Linked DNA regions of Homo sapiens: all the other regions are linked to region 3. Evidence: fine-mapped expression QTL. A gene starts in region 3. Each other region holds a variant in brackets. All regions are shown on one strand. Distances are from middle to middle. Region 1 has its middle 22 kb from the start of SRSF1. Region 2 holds the start of LOC105371840 (a long non-coding RNA gene). Region 3 holds the start of DYNLL2 (dynein light chain LC8-type 2).

The links. PIP is the estimated chance that this variant, and not a neighbour inherited with it, causes the effect.
Region 1: its variant is fine-mapped to the expression of DYNLL2 in nasal epithelium (TOPMed, PIP 0.96).
Region 2: its variant is fine-mapped to the expression of DYNLL2 in whole blood (TOPMed, PIP 0.98).

Annotation. Positions count from the first base shown.
Region 1 is chr17:58,026,650-58,030,881 of GRCh38, reverse strand. No RefSeq gene overlaps it. Among named protein-coding and RNA genes, the nearest start is that of SRSF1, 22 kb to the right of the region's middle. The variant G/T (reference allele first, on the strand shown) is at 1,678.
Region 2 is chr17:58,058,919-58,063,150 of GRCh38, reverse strand. LOC105371840 (a long non-coding RNA gene) reads left to right here and starts at 3,207. Exons shown (of 4, transcript XR_001752951.2): 1 at 3,207-3,503; 2 at 3,593-3,691. The variant C/T (reference allele first, on the strand shown) is at 2,328.
Region 3 is chr17:58,081,309-58,085,540 of GRCh38, reverse strand. It overlaps DYNLL2 (dynein light chain LC8-type 2), which reads right to left and starts at 2,122. Exons shown (of 3, transcript NM_080677.3): 1 at 1,858-2,122. It overlaps DYNLL2-DT (DYNLL2 divergent transcript), which reads left to right and starts at 2,337. Exons shown (of 3, transcript NR_110809.1): 1 at 2,337-2,825; 2 at 2,925-4,232. RefSeq lists silencers at 1,333-1,462, 1,503-1,922, 1,963-2,022, 2,033-2,382 and an enhancer at 2,099-2,393.

The sequences.
Region 1 (4,232 bases), 55 kb after region 3:
GGCACGTGCCACCCCGCCTGGCTAATTTTTGTATTTTCAGTAAAGACGGGGTTTCACTATGTTGGCCAGGATGGTCTTGATCTCTTGACCTCATGATCCACCCGCCTCAGCTTTCCAAAGTGCTGGGATTACAGGCATGAGCCACTGCACCCGGCCCATGTTTTACATTTTAATTATGATGATGATGTAAATATTGCTCAAGGTTGAGCCAATGTTTTACTATGATTTTTCTTCATTTTTTGTTCATTTGGTTCTCTTAGAATCAATATTGCCTCATTGTTAAAAATAAACTCTTAAAATTTTAGAATAGTTTTAGTTCACAGAGTTGTTGAGAAGATAAAACAGAAAGATCCCATATACCCCACACCCAGTTTCTCATATTACATTAGTGGGTATATCTGTCACAATTAATGAAACACTAATGATACATTGTTATTAACTAAAGTTAATACTTCATTCAGATTTCCTCAGTGTTTCCCTAATGTCCTTCTTCTGTTCCAAGATCCCACGCATGATACTTTGTTACATTTAGTTGTCATGTCTCTGTAGACTCCTCTTGGTTATAATAGTTTCCCAGACTCTCTTTGTTTTTATAATGTTGAAAGTTTTGAGGATTACTGGTCAGGCATTTTGTAGAATGACTCTCAATCAGGATTTGTCTGATGTTCTTGTAATTAGACAGGGGTAACATTTTTGAAGAGGAAGATCACGGAAGTAAAGTGCCATTTTTATCATGCCATACCAAGGTTACGTGTTATCAATATGACTTATCATTGTTGATGTTAATCTTGATTGAATGGCTTGATGGAGTTTATCAGTTTTCTTCACTCTAAAGTTACTTTCCCCTTTTCATTTGTCTTTTTTTTTTCTTTTTTTTTTAGATGTTGTGTCGCTCTGTCACCCAGGCTGGAGTGCAGTGGCGCGATCTCCGCTCACTGCAACCTCCGCCTCCTGGTTCAAGCAATTCTCCCTGCCTCAGCCTCCCAAGTAGCTGGGACTACAGGCACCCACCACCACACCTGGTTAATTTTTATATTTTTTAGTAGAGACAGGGTTTCACCATGTTGGCCAGGCTGGTCTTGAACTCCTGACCTCAGGTGATCCACCTGCCTCGTCCTCCCAAAGTGCTGGGATTACAGGCAGGAGCCACCACACCCAGCCTGCCCCCTTCATTTCTATACTGTACTATAAAAGAAAACCACAGGCTGGGCTCCTAATACATTTAATCATGTATTTATATCATTTATACTTTGGTGATACTCCAATACTACTTTGTGTATTTTTTTTCTTTGTTATTTCTCAGATTGTTTTAGCTTGGGCCATTGGGTGCTCTGTCAGTTGGGTCCTATATCCTTTATACATATCCCCATTATTGTGGTGGTTTTTTTTTTTCTTTCTTTCTTTCTTTCTTTCTTTCTTTTTTTGAGACGGAGTCTTGCTCTGTTGCCCAGGCCGGAGTGCAGTGGTGCGATCTCGTCTCACTGCAACCTCCACCTCCTGGGTTCAAGCAATTCTCCTGCCTCAGCCTCCTGAGTAGCTGGGATTACAGGCACATGCCACCACCATGAGCTACCGTGGCCGGCCTCATGGTGGGTTTTTAGTTTGGTTTTGGTTTTGTATGCACTTTCTTACTTTACGGCACTAAAAGATGCTCCAGACTCATTACGTATATTTCCT[G/T]TCCCAGTCCTACAATCAATCATTTTTCCAAGGAACCCTGGCTCTTTTATTGGAGAATGGTATTAGAAACCAAGATCTGGGTGCTAGGTGTGCTCATTGCTACTGGGGTGTCTTGCTTCTAGGCCCTCTCAGCTGACAGAGCAAGGAGAGATATGTGTGTATACTAACATGTGTGTGTATATATATATATATGCATATTTATAAATATATATATATGTAGCCATCTGTGTTAGTCAGTTTTTGCATTACTAAAAAGAAATACCTAAGGCTGGGTAATTTATAAAGAAAAAAGATTCAGTTGGCTCAAGATTCTGCAGGCTGTATAGAAAGCATGACACTAGCATCTGCTTGGCTTCTGGTGAGGCCCCAAGGAGCTTTTACTCATGGTGGATGGTGAAGCAGCAGCAAGCATGTCACATGGCAAGAGAGAGAGCAAGAGAGAGAGAGAAAGTGGGAGGTCCCAGACTCTTTTTTTTTTTTTTTTTTTTTTGAGGCAGAGACTTGCTCTGTCACCCAGGCTGGAGTGCAGCCATGTGATCTTGGCTCACTGCAGCCTCTGCCTCCTGGGTTCAAGCAATTCTCCCTGCCTCTGCCTTCTCTGGGTGGCAGTGGGGCTTCTTTCTGGCAAAGAGCTTTAGGAGTCCTTTTATTAAATCCTCATGGTTTGGTTTTGTTTAGTTTTGTTTTTGAGACAGAGTCTTGATCTGTCACCCAGGCTGGAGTGCAGTGGCACAATCTTGGCTCACTGCAACCTCCACATCCTGGGTTCAAGCGATTCTTCTTCCTCAGCTTCCCAAGTAGCTGGGACTACAGGCACACACCACCACACCTGGCTAATTTTTGTATTTTCAGTAGAGACGGAATTTCACCATATGGGCCAGGCTGGTCTGGAAACGGAGTTTCACCATATTGGCCAGGCTGGTCTGGAACTCCTGACCTCGTGATCCGCCTGCCTTGGCTTCCCAAAATGCTGGGATTATAGGCGTGAGCCACCACGCCTGGCCCCAGGCTCTTTTAAACAACCAGATCTCACATGAACTAACTGAGCAAGAACTCACCCATTATCACAAGGACAGCACCAATCCATTCATGAAGGATCCACACCCAAGACCCAAACATTTCTCATCAGGCTCCACCTCTAACATTGGGGATCTCATTTCAACATGAGCTTTGGTGGAGACATACATCCAAACCATATTAAGGTAAACACGAGTTCATGCTGATTTCTCTAATTCTAATTACCACACAGATTATTCTAGCCTCTGCCTCTTGCTTGTCTGTAAGCTTTCCTTCTAACAAAGAGAACCCCACTTTCACCATTGGCCATCCATTTTCTTAATTGTTCAATTCCAATATACATGTATAATGATTTTGGAATTCTTAACCTGTATCCCTGTGAGAAACAACTAGTTTTTTTTTAATTAACTAGTATATTTACGGTGTTTATATAGAATGCCTTTTGCCTTATAATTACAGACTCCACTCATTTCCAAAGTTACAGAGGTCAGACCCTTATTCCCTCATCCTCTCTGGAAAGATTGCTTTGTATGTTCGCAACACATTTAGATTCCTTTGTCACATTCTGCATTTCGTGCTGAGTTCCCCCAACCTCCTAAATGATTTAAATTTTCATACATTAAACTTTACTTTTTGTATAGTAGTTTTAGGGTTTTAACAAATGCCTAATGTCTCATGTTCACTATTACAGTGTCATGCAGAATCATTTCATCTCCCCAAAAAACCCTGATTGCTTCACCTATTCAACCTTCCTCCTTGAGACCCTGTTGACCACTGATCTGTTTACCATTTCAGTAATTTTGCCTTTTCCAAAATGTCATATAATTGAAATACAGCATGCAGTTTTTTCAGACTCCTCTCTTTCACTTAGCAATATGCATTTAAGATTTTTCCATATCTTTTCATGGTTTGATAGCTCATTCATTTTTATTGCTAAGCAATATTCCACTGTATGAATGTATCGATCCCATTTTTCATGCACTTAGATTACCTTAAACTTATAGTTAAATCTTGCAACACTACCCAACATTGAAGTGTTTTCATGCAAGTTTTACACGGTCAGTTGGTCAATGCTGTCAGATGATCTACCAGTTCCTTCTCTCCCCACCTCCTGCCCAGAGATACCACACCTGCAGTTTTCCATGGTCACCCCTCCAATCTAAACTAGCAGTCCTTGGCCAGGCGTGGTGGCTCACACCTGTAATCCCAGCACTTTGAGAGGCAGAGGCAGGCGGATCACCTGAGATCAGGAGTTTGAGACTAGCCTGGCGAAAATCCATCTCTACTAAAAATTCAAAAATTAGCTGGGTGTGGTGGCACGTGCCTGTAATCCCAGCTACTCAGGAGGCTGAGGCAGGAGAATCACTTGAACCTGGGAGGCAGAGGTTGCAGTGAGCTGAGATGGCGCCACTGTACTCCAGCCTGGGCACCAGAGTCAGACGCCGTCTCAAAAAATATAAAATAAAATAAAAAATAAAATAAAATATAGAATAGAATAGAATAAAATAATAAAATAAAGCAGTCCTCTAACGAAGCTA
Region 2 (4,232 bases), 22 kb after region 3:
TCGTGGCATACTGCAGCTTTGACCTCCTGGCCTCATGTGATCCTCCTGCCTCAGCCTCCCTAGTAGTTGAGATTACAGGTGCACACCACCATGCTCAGCTGTTTATAATTATTGACCATCATGTTCTAGCTGATCCCTATGGAGTGAACATTCTTTTAATTAAAAGTTTCTAACTAGAAGATACTGTATCCTTGCTGTGTCTATTCTATAATATTTAGAATATTCCATTTTCTTCTGAGTCCATAGCAGAGTTTTAGCCCCAGCTTCCCAACGCTACCTGATCTCCTGTCATCAGTTCTCGTATGTGATGGAAACAGGGGGGTGACTCTGTAGCCAGCACACCCACAATGCCTCACAGCTTACATAAACAAAACAGTGTTGTTCTGAGATGTCCACACTGCAGTTCCTTTCCCCCACACAAATGCCTGATGTTTCATCGTCCCAGGGAAGAATTCGGGCCTAGGGAGCAGTCAGTAATCTGGGCTCCTGGCTGTGGTTTGGCTATCTCGCAGCTGACAGGAGGTAGCTCTGGCCACGCAGAAAGTGGCACAGGATTCTTTGTCTGGCACCTTAGGGTGGCCAGTAGCACAGTTTAGTGAGCTTGTAAAGCTGGTTACCAATTTGCATGGCTGTATTAATGAACCTTCCAAAACTGAGAACATGTTTATACAATGGATTTCCTACCCTAAAAAGAGTCTATGCGGCCGGGCACAGTGGCTCACGCCTGTAATCCCAGCACTTTGGGAGGCTGAGGCGGGCAGATCACGAGATTAGGAGATCAAGACCTTCCTGGCCAACGTGGTAAAACCCCATCTCTACTAAAAATACAAAAATTAGCTGGGTGCGGTGGCGGACGCCTATAGTCCCAGCTACTTGGGAGGCTGAGGCAGGAGAATGGCGTGAACCTGGGAGGTGGAGGTTGGAGTGAGTCAAGATCGTGCCACTGCACTCCAGCCTGGTGACAGAGAGAGGGACTCCGCCTAAAAAAAAAAAAAAAAGAAAGAGTCTATGCATACAGCACACCAGCCTTCAGTCACCACTCTTACAGCCAGAGTCTTCAAGAAATTATGTGGGCCATGCCTCTCCCTCTGAGTGGCCCCCAAGGCCCAGCCTTACAGTAACTGACCCAGGCTCTCACACAGGGCACTGGGGTCCTGCCCCAGGCTCCGGGCTCTACCCACAGCACAGGCTGGGGCTGATGCTGAGCAAATGGGTTGTGGCTGTCGCCAGAGAGGAACTGGCAGCAGACGCAGCAGACTATGTTTTCTTTGCAGGCTGAGGGTAACTGGAAGAAGCCGAGAATTCCTCTGCTCTGCCTTCGGGAGGAGGGGATGAGAGAAGCAGGGAAGACCAGCAGCAATCTCTCCAAAAGAGAAGTTCCTCCAGCTCCTAGGATGAGCAAGATAGTATAGACAAAAGATGGAAAGAGGACAACCTAGGACCCCAGGGAGTCCCTGGTATAGATATCAGGAGCCTAGGTCCCCTGTCTGGAACTGCTCTAGGGGAGTCATGATAGTAGCTAACATTCATTAAATGTTTGCTCTGTGCCAGGCACCCTGCTCAGAACTCAGTTGCACTGTGAAGACAGTTTCTACAGGGGCTGAGAACATAGGCCTAAGCAACACACCACTAGGTTCAAATCCCCATTGTGGCTACTCATTAGCTCTGTGACACTGAGTAAGCTGCTTACCCCCTCTGTGCCTCAGTTACTTCATTCATAAAATAGGAATACAAATAGTACCCACCTGATAAAGTTTGAGGATTAAATGCTTCACAAACAGAAAGCTTTTAGCACCATGTCTGCCCTGGAGTAAACAGGAAACAAATTTTTGCCGTCACTACTTTATTGAATCCTCACACAAAGCTTTAAAGTAAATGTTCTTAATCTCCGAGGCTCAAAGGATTCAAATACTTGCCCAAGGTCCCAGGTTCGTTTGATTGACAGAGCATGAGTACCCTCCTAAATGCCCCTTGAGGTCTCTATATTTAGGAGGAAGCAGCTTCAGAACTCTAGCTCCCCACCCCAGGTCCATTCCAGTTTAGAAACTCCACAGCCACCTCAACAGCAGGAACAAAGGTGGGTCTCTGTCCTGCCTCTGGGGCCAGGCTGGCTGATGGCTTCAGGCCCAACCAAAAGATCCCTTCCACCCACCCGACTCTAGCAACACCCACATCACCAACCCTGGGCCTCCCACCAGAGCCTCCACCTTCTAGGAAGTCACCCTCCCTCCTGCAAGATGCTGGTGGCTGAGACTGGAGGGACCCTTTCAATTTCAGGATAAACAAACTGTCGTTCTGGCCCAGCCCTCTGCCGGCTTGCTGCTTCC[C/T]GCCCCCCTCCATCCGCAGTGCACAGTCGCTCTGTTCTCCTGCCAACTTGGCAGCTCATCGCTGCTGTTACTATCAACACCTCCAAGGGAAAAGGGAGAGGAGTCAGCTCTGATCGCCTGGCGCACTGTGCAGCAAATTCATGTCAGAGCCAGCCTTGGAATGTCTCCCAAGCTCCCAAGGCTCCTGGTGAGGAGGAAAAGGTGGGACTCATGTTGCTGAGGACAGATGGGGCTGGGGAGTGACCCTGGGCCTAATTAGAGCAGCCTCCCAGCAGAGCCACTCACTGGTCCTGGCCAAAGCTGCAAGCCCCCAGGAGCAGGTGGCTCTGATAGAAAGCATTGTAGAAGAACACTCTGGGGGCCTTGTAGATGTGTAGGAGAGAACTTGGGGGGTCTGGGTCTCACCCTAACTCTTGCCAGAGTCCAGGGCAGTTCCCAAGATGGTTGGGACCTCTGGGTCTGTGGCCAGGATCGGGAAAAACAGGTCTTTCCCTGTCCAGTCTGTGAGCTCCTAGAATCTCTGGCCTGTGTCTTCTTTCCTCCATCTTTCTTGGACTCCATGTGTGCAGAGCTCTTGTCTCTCCTGTCGGATTGGATTGAGAGCCCCTAAGGGACCACACTTTCTCTGCCAAATGGAAACGTCCCGCAGGCAGACAACCTTTTCCTATTCCCAACTCCCTCCCCCAGCCTCTTAGGCCCCACCTATTGGCTCCATAAAGCAACTGATGCCCTTCTCTGGCTCCTGATGTGACTCCTGGAGCCCAGCTGGGAAGAACAGAGAACCTGTATCTTCAAGGACCCAGTGTCCCTCCTGGACCATAGCCTGCCCGCAGCACAGGGTCGTGGTCAGTCATCCACCCTGACAGGACCCAGGGGAGTCAGCATGCAGCTCTCCCAGGAGGAATGGCCTCTCTAGGTTTCTCCCTGCTTGTCAAGAGAAGGCCTTTGTTCCCTGCTCTAGGGTTTTTGGTGTCAGCCAAAGTGGTGGTTTCAGGGGAAGCTTCCCAATCCTTGCACCGCTGGCCATCTAGTCTACCCAAGGATGTGGTTGTCAGCTCCCCTCTGGGTGCCGCCAGCCTGTTTCCTTCTCTGTAACACAGGGATAACCTTAGGTACCTCACTGGGTTACAGCCGATGGTGATGAAGACATGAAGATGATGCCTGTGTTCTCCTTGGGTAGGTCCTGGCACTTAGAATCAGTATGTTTTCCTTCCTTCCCTCCTTTTCTTCCTTCTTTACTTCATTCATCTCTCCACTCTCTCCAGGAGCCTTTCTCCCAGATGTGAAACTGATCCTAAGACCCCCTGTAATTTCCTGCTGAAAATCTCCACCAAGAAACACAGCCACAGCCACAGTTCTTCCTGGTAAGAAGCCCCCAGGGCCAGGCAACAAGAAAAGTGAGCTCGTTCAGCAGGCTGGGATGTAAATAAGCCACAAGAGGCTGTGCCATTCTGGGTTGCACCTGTGAGCATCACTCAGCTGAAGCCCCATCAGCGTTTCCATGACAAACTCGTATTTCCGGATGCCTTTCTTCCAGCTTGAAGAGCCTGCCTCGTGGTGAGACTTGACACTGAAAATGCTTCCATATTTTTTTCCCTAAAAAAGCTTGCATGCTCTAAAAATCCACATGTTTATTAGATGTGTTTGCTCTTCATTCTGAGAGTTTTGTTGACATTATATGTGTATAGTATACACCAAGCAGGTAATATTCATGTGGGAAGTTCTGTGGTGGAGAGCCATGTGGCAAATACACAGCTACCACACATCATAACAAGATGTCTCCCTTCCCCAAAATATATCCTGCATCCATTTGTCTGCCTCAAAGCCTGAAATTCCACCACTAGAGATTTGCTACTTTTGCCTTTTTTTTTTGGAAACAGAGTCTTGCTCTGTCACCCAGGCTGG
Region 3 (4,232 bases):
GTAACTATCTCCCCCATCATCCCACCCCTAAAAGCACCCCTCTGTGGCCCAGCCCAATGGACAAGAGATGCTGTCATTCCAGCTCTATCTGATGGAAGGCTACACAGGAGGCTGCCTGCTCAAGGACATATCCTTGGTATCATTCCAGGCCACCTTGATCTCGGAGTTCACAATAGCCTGTGGGCTAGATGGCTGAAAGGGAAAACAGAACTCACCACCACCATTTCAGCCTGCACCACATGCAGAGAATGCACACATGCCAGCTGCCAGCCAGGCAGCCCTTGACCGCATCCAAGGCCCCTTCATCTAGATAGCACTGCCAAACTAAGCAGGGCTGGTTCCACTTCGGCAGAAACTGGCAGAGCAAAGAGGTAGTAGACCAGCACCCTCTGCCCCCACATTCTGGAGAGGAAAAGTCAGAGCCTCAACTGGAGTCTGTGAGCACCATGTGGTGCTGAGGAAAGATTCGGAGAACCCTGTTCAAGGAATGACTAGTTACGTGACCTTGGGCAAATCAACATCTTCATTTTAAATACTAATGGTTGAAATGAGATAAATGGGGTAAACTCAAATGGGTCTGAGCAAAGGTACAACAGCAGCACAGGGAGAAAGGTTCTTACATTATAAGGCTCTGTATAAGTGAAGAAAAACTAGTGTCACCTGGTGGCCTATTCCAGGTTACCACTCAGAAGGGGGCACTGTTTACAAACCCAGGGGTGGGGGTGGGGCCTGGTTAGACAGCAAAGTGAAAGTATGAAATTGGCACCATTTTGCCTGCAAGCTCACCTGCTCCACTGCCTCATTCCCAAAGTCCAAAGGAGCAACTTTGTTACAGTAATTAAAAGCCACCTTACTCTCCAGGAAAGAGCCTGCGGTTACATAATATTGGTCTTACGACTACAATGGCCCCCCAGGCATCTGAGAGAGGTGAAGCCCAACCCCTACCACCCCTGTCCAAGGTGCCGGTAAGCAAAGCACAGGAAGGTGTCCAGCCTAGCCCCTCCCTCCTTGGGAAAAAGCAAGGGACCTGGGCCTCCAGATAGGAGGAAGATGGCCAGAGGGCCCCAGGCCAGCAGCCTCAGTCACGAGCCAAGGCTCCTGTGAAAAGCACAAAGGGCACCCCAGGACAGCTCCCATCCTCTATTCCTGGTTTTGCAACCAAAAAAAAAGGCTAAATCTCCGAATGACACGGACCACCATCCCCACCCGCCAATACACACACACTTCTACTTCCCTCTTCGGGCTCTCCAAGTGGGCCGTATCCCTCCACTATCCCATCCTCCAGAGCGCTGCGGTCCCGAAGGGCAGCACCTGGGGAACGAGGAAGCATCCTCCTTCCCCCCGACCTCCCGCCCGCGCCGCCGGCCAGGTCCGCAGGCCCCGGCCGGTCGGCCGCCCTCCCCCACCCGGCCTGGAACAGCGCCGGAGTGACTGGGCGTCCTCGCTGCAGGAAGGACGCCCCAGAGGGTGGCGGTGGCGGCAGGAGGAGCCGCGTCACGCCCGAGCCCTCTCCACCCCCTCTTCCCCGGCCCCTGACATCAGGGGCCTCCACGCAGCGCAGAGAGACTCCCGGGGGCGGGGGCAGCGGCAGCTCCGCAGCCCGGGCCTCCAGCAGCGCCACGAGGGTGGCCGGGGCAAAGGGTGGCGCAGCCCGGGCTGCGCCGAGAGGGAGGGGCGGCGGGGGCGCGCTGCGCTGCCCGGACCGTCAACGCCAAGGGCTGCGGGGCCAGCCCTGTTCCAGGCCTTGGGGCCGGCTAAGGAGGCCGCAGGGCCACCGCGGCGAGGGCCGGGTCGTGTAGAGTCGCACGCGACGGACACAGGCCCGCCACCCGGGGGACGCCCCCACCCACCGCTCACCTTCACGGAGGCGAGTCCGCACTGGGCCCTGGGGAGGAGCGATGGCCCGAGGCAGAGCACAGGCAGGGGCGGTGTTCCCTGGGCTCCTCCTGCAGCTGCAGCAGCCGCCGCCGCCGCGGTCTCCGGCTCCCGCAGCCCGAGGCCGATCGCTCCCTGCCGCGGTCCGCCCTTGGAGTTTCGCCGGCCGCCCGCGCTCCGCCTCACGCCGCCCGCCCGCCCGCCCGCTCCGCACTGGCGCCTCACAGCTCCGCTCCGCTCTGCCGCTGAGCGCGGCCGACGCGCGGCCCCCGCTGAAATAGTGCCCCGCCCCCGCCCCCCCGCCGCGCGCGCCGCCGTCCGCGCTCCCCATTGGCTGAGCCCGCCCGGCCCCGCACTGCGGGCTTCTCCCCGCGCCGCTCTCGCCCCACATCTTGTTTCCTCCCACAATGCCTCGGGGCGGAGGGAGGGGGTGGGGAGGAGGAGCTGGAGCGGGTGGGGGAGGGAGCCGTGGCCTTAAGAAAGGAGAGGAATGCGGACCCCTCCCCCCGGGGCTGGAGAGGCCAGGCCTGAAAAGGAATAAAGAGACATGGTCCTGAGAGAGGAGGAGAGGGAAGGGTGTGGAGACCCCCAGTCCCAAGGAGAAAAAAGGGAGAGGGGGATGGAGATTTCAGACCCAGGGAACAGATGGGGCTGAGGTAGAGACCCCAACCTTAGAGAGGGGAGGAGATGAAGTCACCAGCCTCAGAGGAAAAGACAGGACACTCCCTCCTCCCGTATCTGTGAGAAAGAGAGGGACAGCCAGCCCTATGGAGAGGGAGAGGCATAGGAGCCCCAGGACTCCCTCCCCTCACCTTCCGGGAAGGTCCCTTCTTCCTCCTTTGTTCTTTGAGGCTGAAGGACCTAAACTCCCAGCTGGGCCCCCAGCCGGTATTTGTCTACAGGAGCAATGGAGACAGAGCCGAAGCAAAATTGATGGGGATGTGTCTTTGGTACGCAGGCCTCTGCTGTCCTTGCACATTTATGGCCTTGGGGTCCTGGGATGGGGGTGAGAGTGAGCGATTTCTTGTCGTCTGTCCCTGCCTGTCCAGGTAGACAAGGTTGGAGGAGAGTGAATAGAAGCCCCCAGAGGTGGTGCCTGTCAGAGCTGTGAGGAGCCTTCAAAAACCACCCATCCACACCCCTCACTTTATAAAGGAGAGAATCCAAGTACAGAGAGCCCTGCCAGATCCCGCAGGTCAGGCTTGACTTGCTTCTAGCTGAAAAGAGGTGCACCCAGGAAGCAGCCCCTCTGGAGGCTCAAGAGACTACTTCTGGGAGAGTGGGTGTGAACGTGCGCGTTGGGAGCCTGCCTGCCCTCACTCCATCCCACTCCCAGGAAAGATCCTCAGGCCTGCGGTTTTCTTTCTGGTCTGTTTTATACAGAAGTGTCTACCTCAAGGGCTGACGAGCCTTTATTGGGAACCAAGCATTTTGGCCATACAGTAGGGATTAAGAAGCTGCCGGGGATAGCTCCCACTCCCATCTTTTCCCCTTCGCCTCTCCAAACCATGGTCAGGAAGTCAGACTTGCCCTGGCCCTGGCCTGCTCTGGTTTGAAGCATCAAAAGTTAGTGTTCGTTATGTGTCAGGGGAAACCTGGAAAAATCATTCCCTCTGGTTACTGCTTTCCACAGTTCTGTCCTCTAACAACCTCAGTTGGGGGATTTCAGAGACCAGTTAAGGCCTGGGGTATCCCCTCACACTAAGGGTTTTCTGATGTCAGTCTTTGTGTTCATGAATGGGAGGCGTGGCCTCTATGGGAGGAAGGGAGGGAGACGAGGAAGGATGATTTATACACTTAGGGCTTGTGCGGGGCTAATCGCCTGGACTGCCTGGAGAAAGCGAAGCTAGTACCCCCTTTCTCCAACAGTCCTTAGTTTCCAGGCCCTTCCAGGGCCTGAAGGTCAGATCTGCCACGTATGGTTGCACAGGTCATTCACTGCGCAAGAGTATCCAACCGATGGAGCAAGCGGGTGCTAAAATACAGCCGGCACACTGCTTGCTAGCCTGTGTGTCACGGTACAAGCCAGTGTCCAACCAGAAGATGACTTCTTTCAAGTGTTCCCAAGGGTTACTATGAGCTAGCAGTGGCCCTTCAAAGGCCATGCTGCCAGGGCATAAATCCTCCCTCTCCCTGCTCCCCTTCCCTGAAGTATAATAGGGATAAGAGCTTGCTCATTTCCAGGCTGTGGTGTGGTGGACAGAAGGGCACGAAGAACTTCAACTAACAGAAGTCAGAGCCACGGGTTTTCACTTTTAGGAAATGTGAATATCAGTGCTCTTGTGTGTGTGTGTGTGTGTGTCAAGGACTAAACTGTAGAATAACAGGGAGATGTGTTAATAGTATGGTTTATAAAT